2 linked regions of the Homo sapiens genome follow. The protein of the gene in region 2 purifies or fractionates together with the protein of the main gene of each other region. This does not show direct contact. Each region holds a gene or a part of one and is shown on either strand. Other genes may lie near its edges. The genes, in order: CDK5RAP2 and SPTBN2.

What was found.
Region 1: the proteins of SPTBN2 (region 2) and CDK5RAP2 purify together in Homo sapiens (co-immunoprecipitation; one large-scale study listed by IntAct). This does not show direct contact.

The regions. Positions count from the first base shown.
Region 1 is NC_000009.12:120,402,148-120,405,959, reverse strand, and holds part of CDK5RAP2 (CDK5 regulatory subunit-associated protein 2), read left to right. Parts: intron 1-1,846; coding exon 1,847-1,924; intron 1,925-2,888; coding exon 2,889-3,154; intron 3,155-3,812. UniProt on the Homo sapiens protein: Potential regulator of CDK5 activity via its interaction with CDK5R1. Negative regulator of centriole disengagement (licensing) which maintains centriole engagement and cohesion. Involved in regulation of mitotic spindle orientation.
Region 2 is NC_000011.10:66,701,517-66,705,328, forward strand, and holds part of SPTBN2 (spectrin beta chain, non-erythrocytic 2), read right to left. Parts: coding exon 3,082-3,812; intron 206-3,081; coding exon 68-205; intron 1-67. UniProt on the Homo sapiens protein: Probably plays an important role in neuronal membrane skeleton.

The sequences.
Region 1 (3,812 bases), on a different chromosome or scaffold from region 2:
TTTATTAAATATGAGCATGAATTTATATTTTTCAAATTGGATTTTGTGTCATTGTGTGTCCTTTCTTTGTTTTTGCCCAATATTACATCATACATGTTCCCTGTGCTTTCACATGGGCTTCCTAATGATTGTTTGCAGGCTATTCTCAGTCACCAATCCATGACCCCGTTGATTTATTAAAGTGGTCTCTGATTTGGAGCCATAATAGACATCAATGTTAATATGCTTTTTGCTGTTAAATAATATTCTTAGGAGAAAACCCTACAAGGGGAACCTCATAAGTTTGGAAAGGTGCCATATTGCCACCTTCTAAATAGTCTGTACATCAGCAGTGTACAAAGGTAGTGGTTTTTGTGTGACCTCAGCATTGGGCATTACTATTTTCAACACGGGTCTGCACCTGGCCCTTTTTAAGGCTTTGAGGAGATGGGATTCAGGAACTTGTGGGGTAGGCTAGGGGAGTTTGAAGCAGGGAGAACAGTTCTGTGCTTGGGGTACCCAGGAAGGAGAGTTGGGTAGCTGAAGTGAGGAGGCCATCAAACAGCCTTTACCTGCTTTTGAAATTTGCCGAAAGCAGCCCTCATCATGCCTGGCAAGAGGCATCCAGGAGAGCATTCAGAATTCACAGTGCTGCCTCAGCAGAAAAGTTTTATAATTTCCTTGAGTCAAGATCAGAATTATAGGCAGCAGCATTTCTTCCTTTGCAAAAGACTTCTCAGGTCTGTATTTAAGTGCATCTGTTTTAAAAATTCTGTTCTAAAGGCTGATGTCTTTCACTGAGAGTGATTCCTCTTGGGGCCAGCTCTATGGAGCTGACCTCCTGGCTCCTTGGCCTTAGGAACTGTAGCACACCCCTGGGAAATGCTGGAGTGCAGTCAGCCCACCGCCCAGTGGTGCAGGAGCTCGGAAGGGGGATCCTAAGCCCTAGGCTTCCTTGCTCTGTGCCACTGACATGCTGGGTTATGCTGGACAGATCACTTTCTATCTCTGCCCCTTGGTCTCCCCTTCCATGAAATCTGAATTACAGTGTGTTTTGCCCACTGAGCTATTGAGTCCAATAGCTTTTCATATGTGAAAGTGCTTTCCAAATTATAACGTGTTGCACAGGTCATCTGTACAGCATCTATTGGTTTTGCCTCCTTACAGTGTTGCAAATACATCACCCCCCAGATCCTATTGTGGGTTACTCTCATCTCTAGCTTAGGTTAGTGTGGCAGCCTCCAGACTTACTCTTTCAGTACAAAATACAGACCTCAGCTTGACATTGCCTTGCCCAAAGCCCTTGAGTGGGCCCCTCAGTCCTCTTGGTTCTGGCCTTGCATTCTACTTTGTCCTTCCCTGCACCCGGGCCTTGGGTCTATGAACTGCTTATTTCTCCCTGAGCGATGATTCCACTCTTTGTCCCACTGTCTGCCTCTCACCTGCCCATTGTGCTGCCTGGCATTTCTTTCCCTCCTTCTTACCATAGGTCAGTCACAATCAGTCTTAAAACATAAGGTTTTAAAACGGGTATTAGCCTTTGGGAAGCCAAGTTGGGGGTAGTGCCCCTCACCTGAGCCCCAACAGCCTGTGTTTCCCTCCCTTGTCCTTGATCACACTAAAATAAAATTGCTTATTTACTTTTCTGCTGAGAGTTTTTCTAGGGAATGGACTGGGCCTGGTCACTCTGTCTCCCTGGTGTCCCACAAAGGTGGGCTTGGCAGGACAGAGGCCCAGTGAAGATTTGAAGGAATGCTGTGTGTGTATGGATAAGTGAATGTGAGGGGCTTGACTGTATTCTCTTTCAGTTCTCTCTTGAATGCTGACAACAGTGAAACTAACAGTTCTCGTGTTTTGCATTTTGTAGATGGTGACAAATATCCCATGGAAAGTGATAATTCATTTGATCTGTTTGATTCCTCCCAGGCAGTGACACCAAAATCAGGTACAAAGCTGAAGTCCAGGTAACTGTGGGAGCATTGGATGTGACAGTAAGACTTTTTAACTTGCAGAAAAGGGGGGTCCCTGGTCCCAACTCAGGAGGGTATTTGGTAAGGATTTGGGATTTCAAGTTCTCAGCATCCCCAGCTGGTGATCTTCTCCTTCAAGCCAGTTAATCCACTCCTAGGTGTTACCAAGGTTAGAACATCATTGGGTCCCTCTTGCCTTAGATTAAAATTGTGACCACCTTTGTGAGGCTTTCAAGGCCCTCCAGGATCCAGCTCCAGTGGGTCCGTCCAGCCTTATCCCTTAACCTGGTGTAGCCACACAGGGGTCACCATCCTGCAGACAGGCCCACACTTTCCTCTCACTGTGACTTTTAGACCCCCTTTGTCCCACTCTTTGCCGGTAGAAGTCCCGTTTCCTCAAGACTCATCATGAATACACATTTCTCTGTGACATGCCTTTGCTGCTGTCCTTGGTCAGAATGACTCATCATTCGTGTAATTCTTGCTACTTGCTCAATCCAGTTCAAATGCTGCTCCTTCTCAGAAGCCTTCCCTGTTCTCTCCCTCCCTGCACAGATAATTGTTTTTTCTGGCTCTGGCCCTTCATCACTCTGCTGTTGCACCTTCTGCAGTGTCTGTGTTCTGATCAGACTGTGGGCTACTGGAATGCAGGCACCAGCTTGAGTCATCCTTGTGAATCTGGGGTCTTCTGCCGAGTGGGTGGTTGATAAGTGTTGGTTGAGTTGACTTGAGCCTCTCCTACAAGATGACTCATAAGCCCAGTGTGGGGTAATATACAGAGGTCCAGGAGCGTGCCTCTTTTCCCCTCTGGGCTTGTGTTGGGTGGCATTTGGGCACGAGGGCCTCTTCTAGCCCTCCTAGCTAGCTTCAACATCATAAGCGTCTTGAACGCAGAGTGTTACCTGAAACAGATTTTACATCCTACTTCTCATTTTACAGTTTCAGAGACTCCTCCACTCTCTGGGAATGACACGGACTCCCTCTCCTGCGACAGTGGCAGTTCGGCAACTAGCACTCCGTGTGTGTCCCGCCTGGTCACTGGCCACCACCTGTGGGCCAGCAAGAATGGCCGCCATGTCCTGGGCCTGATTGAGGACTATGAGGCCCTGCTCAAACAGATCAGCCAGGGACAGAGGCTCCTTGCTGAAATGGACATTCAAACCCAAGAGGCTCCCAGCTCCACAAGTCAAGAGCTGGGAACAAAGGTAACCTGACCACAGAGCTGGGGGGCACAAGCTGCTCCCTGGGAGTGTCGGTGGAAGGGGGAGGGGAGTCAAATGGCGCAGTTGTCCTCATTAGGACCCTGAGAAGAGGGACCAGGAAGTGTGGCCTCAGAGAGCTCAGAGGTCAGGTCCAGTGTGGGGAACTATTGGTGGTGGCTGTGTTTGGTGGGGTTTGTGCCTTGTGTTCCTGCAACTGCTCCATGGGCTCTGCTGTCTTGTTCCCATGACGGCCTCTGTACATCTGGTCTCTCATCCATTCTTCTCTCCATCTGCACCCTGGTGTGTCTGTCCATTCATCTGCCCATCCACCTGGCTGTCGCCCATTATGAAGTGGAATTACTAGTTCAAAGGTTGTGAACTTTTTAGGGCTCTTGATGATAACTGTTGCTCCATTACTTTGCAAAACAATTCTATCTCTGTTCATGAACGTTTGTCTCACTACATTTTTGTTTTTGTTGAGGTTTTGTTGTTGTTGTGTTTTTTTTATTTTGAGACAGGATCTAGCTCTGTCACCCAGGCTGGAGTGCAGTGGCGCGATCATGGCTCACTGTAGCTTCGACCCCACCTCCTAGGCTCAAGCAATCCTCCTGCCTCAGCCTCCCAAGTAGCTGTGACCACAGGCGTGTGCCATCACACCTGG
Region 2 (3,812 bases):
CCTCTCACTGCCATCCCCATTGCTTCATTTTTCTGTCAGTTTCCTGGTCCTGCCCTCCCAAACCCACCTGTGGTTGAGCTGCTCCTGGGTGTTGACAATGCGGTCTTTGCCTGGGGGGTTGGCCTTCAGTAACTGCTCGGCAATGTCATTCACCGCGGTGATTTGTGCTGCAAGGGTGTTCATTTCAGGCTCCAGGGTCTCGAACCTGAGAGGGTGGAAGAGCCAGGCGTGAATTGTGGGAGGCAGCGATGTGCCCAGTCCACCTAAGTCCACCTCTCTTAAACACCCAGGAGGGTGTCTCCTTCACCAGGAGGCTTATCTGCAGGAGTCTCTCTGCCTCTCAGCCTATGAGGTTCATAGTATCTGTGCATCAAGGAAGGAACCCACAACTCCCCCAAAACAAGCAGAATAACTGTCATCGCTAGAAATGCTCAAAAGATGGTGAAAGGTAAAGGTCAGGAACAGACACACAAGTCAAACTAGACCCTGGCATGGGGCCAACCCTTTATCAGAGCTGCTCAGCCTCCTGGGACTTCCCCCTTAGCTGCCTATCTGGGTCTCATCCCACTAATATGTGTTAGAAAATGAAGTAATAACCAAAAATATTTGTCTGAGTGATGAAAATGTGAAGGATAACTTCTTCCAGGGACATTTTATGTTTTGTTTTTGAGATGGAGTCTCGCTCTGTCACCCAGGCTGGAGTGTAGTGGTGCAATCTCGACTCACTGCAACCTCCGCCTCCCGGGTTCAAGCAATTTTCTGCCTCCGCTTCCCGAATAGCTGGGATTACAGGTGCCCGCCACCAAGCCTAGCTAATTTTTGTATTTTTGGTGGAGACGGGTGTTTCACTATCTTGGCCAGGCTGGTCTTGAACTCCTGACCTCATGCTCCACCCGCCTTGGCCTCCCAAAGTGCTGGGATTACAGGCGTGAGCCACCTCGCCTGGCCGACATTTGATGTTCTAATAGGGCAGGGTCTGCAAATGTTTTCTGTGAAGGGCTTGATGGTAAATATTATAGGCTTCGTGAGCCATGCAGCTGCTGCGGCAACTATTCAGCCCTGCTGCTGTAGCCTGAAAGCAGCCACGGGCAATACGCAAAAGGGCGAGTGTAGCTCTGTTCCAGTAAAACTTTATTTACAGACCGGGCATGGTGGCTCACGCCTGTAATCCCAGCACTTTGGGAGGCTGAGATGGGTGGATCACAAGGTCAGGAGATCGAGACCATCCTGGCTAACACGGTGAAACCTCGTCTCTACTAAAAATACAAAAAATTAGCCAGGTGTGGTGGCGGGTGCCTGTAGTCCCAGCTACTTGGGAGGCTGAGGCAGGAGAATGGCGTGAACCCGGGCGGCGGAGCTTGCAGTGAGCCAAGATTGTGCCACTGCACTCCAGCCTGGGGGACAGAGCAAGACTCCGTCTCAAAAAAAAAAAAAAAAAAAAAAACCAAAAAAAACTTTATTTACAGAAACAGGCAGCAGGCTGGATTTGGCCCAAGGGTTGCAGTTTGTTAACCTCTACATTAGGATACCTTGAAAACTAAAAAAAATCTTTAATTACATTTTTATTTTTATTTATTTTTTTGAGACAGGGTCTTACTCTGTCACCCAGGTTGGAGTGCAGTGGCACGATCTCAGCTCACTGCAGCCTCGACCTCTGGGCTCAAGCAATCCTCCTGCCTCAGCCTCCCCAGTAGCTGGGACTACAGGCGCCTGCCACCATGCCTGGCTAATTAAAAAAAAAATTTTGTAGAGGTGGAGTCTCACTATGTTGCCCAGGCTGGTTATGAACTCTTGGAATCAAGTGATACTCCTGCCTTGGCCTCCCAAAGTGCTGGGATTACAGGTGTGAGCCACCAGGCCTGACCTAATTATATTTTTTTAAACACCAGGAAATTTGATTACACATTGATCATAGATCATATCAAGAAATTCCTGACCCGGCGCAGTGGCTCATGCCTGTAATCCCAGTACTTTGGGAGGCCAAGCCGGGTGGATCACGAGGTCAGGAGATCGAGACCATCCTCGCTAACATGGTGAAACCCTGTCTCTACTAATAAAAAAATACAAAAAATTAGCTGGGCATGGTGGTGGGTGCCTGTAGTCCCAGCTACTTGGGAGGCTGAGGCAGGAGAATCGCTGGAACCCGGGAGGCAGAGCATGCAGTGAGCCGAGATCGCACCACTGCGCTCCAGCCTGGGTGACAGAGTGAGACTCCATCTCAAAAAAAAAAGAAATTCCTAATTTTGTTCTATGTGATAATGGTATTGTGGTTCTATAAAAAAATTTTTAAGATTTATTATTGAATAAATGATTTGAAGATTTATTCTGTAAATAAAACTATTTTAGTGTCTCTGTCTAAAAGGTTTATAACTTCAAAGCCTCAGCTATTTTAAGTCCACACAGACAATTTGAAAATAATATATTGTAGGTAAGAATGCTTCCTCGTATTTCTTTTCTTTTTTTTTTTTTTTTTTTTGAGACAGTCTCGCTCTGTCGCCAAGGCTGGAGAGCAGTGGCACGATCTCGGCTCACTGCAAGCTCCGCCTCCCAGGTTCATGCCAGTCTCCTGCCTCAGCCTCCCGAGTAGCTGGGACTACAGGCGCCCCCCACTGTGCCCGGCTAATTTTTTGTATTTTTAGTTGAGACAGCGTTTCACCATGTTAGCCAGGATGGTCTCGACCTCCTGACCTCGTGATCCGCCTGCCTCGGCCTCCCAAAGTGCTGGGATTACAGGTGTGAGCCACCGTGCCCGGCCGCTTCCTTGTATTTCTTAAAGGGCACACCCTGAAGAAGGTAGGAGGGATGTGCTAATCTTGGGGATTTGCTTTTTAAAAGGGCAGAGAACCAAATAGAGCAAGATGTTGGCAATGACTGAATCTGGGTGACGGGTGTAGAGGGGTTTGTGGTGAAATGTCTCTACTTGTGAGTATGGTTAACATTTTTTGTTAAAACTAGAAATGGACAACCATTAAGACTCAAAGGGGTGAGGCAGGAAGTTTATGGAGGGACTCACCACCCACATCCTGGCCCCCCCACCCCCACCTCCCAAGGCTGGTCCCACTAGGAGCCTGAGGGGCCTACCTCTGCTGCACGACCTCCAGGTCCTCCAGGCGTTCAGGCAGGGCCAGCCCGTTGAGCCACTGCTCCTTCTCCTCCACCCAGAGTCCACAGGCCCCGGCCTCGCTGAGCATGGTGTAGAGCGCCAGGGCTGCCTCCAAGGCCCGCGCTCGCTCGCCTGCCCGGGCCTGCAGCTCCTCGTAGTGCCGCTCCAGGGTGGGCACCCGGCTCTGCACCTCGGGCGTGCGGCTCAGTGTGGGGGGCAGGGCTGCTGCCTGTTCCCTCAAGGCGTCCAGGGTTGGCCGGTGGCTTCGAATCTCCTCCTCCAGGGCCCGATGCTGCCTGGCTAGAGCCTGCGTGGAGAACTCGTCGTGCCCCAGCTCGGGGCTGGACACCAGGCGCAGTGCGTCAACCAACCAGGCCTCCATGTCGTTTGCATCGGCCTGGAACTGGTAGAGGCTGGCGGCTTGGGCCAGCCGCTGGGCACGCTCCTCGGCCAGGGCCTCTAGCCGCTCCCACTGGGCTTGGAGTTCAGCTGCACGGGCAGAGGCCTGGCTTGCCCCAGGGTGACCCTCGGCCACCAACTGCTGGCCCTGCTCCAGGGTGAGCTTCAGGGGCCCCAGCCGGCCGCTCATCTCGCCCCGCAGGGCTGTGTGCTTGTTGAGCAGGCGGAGGGCACCGGTCAGGTCTCGGCCCGTGTCGGCTGAGGCCAGGAGGTGCTGCTGCTCCCGCACCCAGGCCTCAGCTTCACCCAC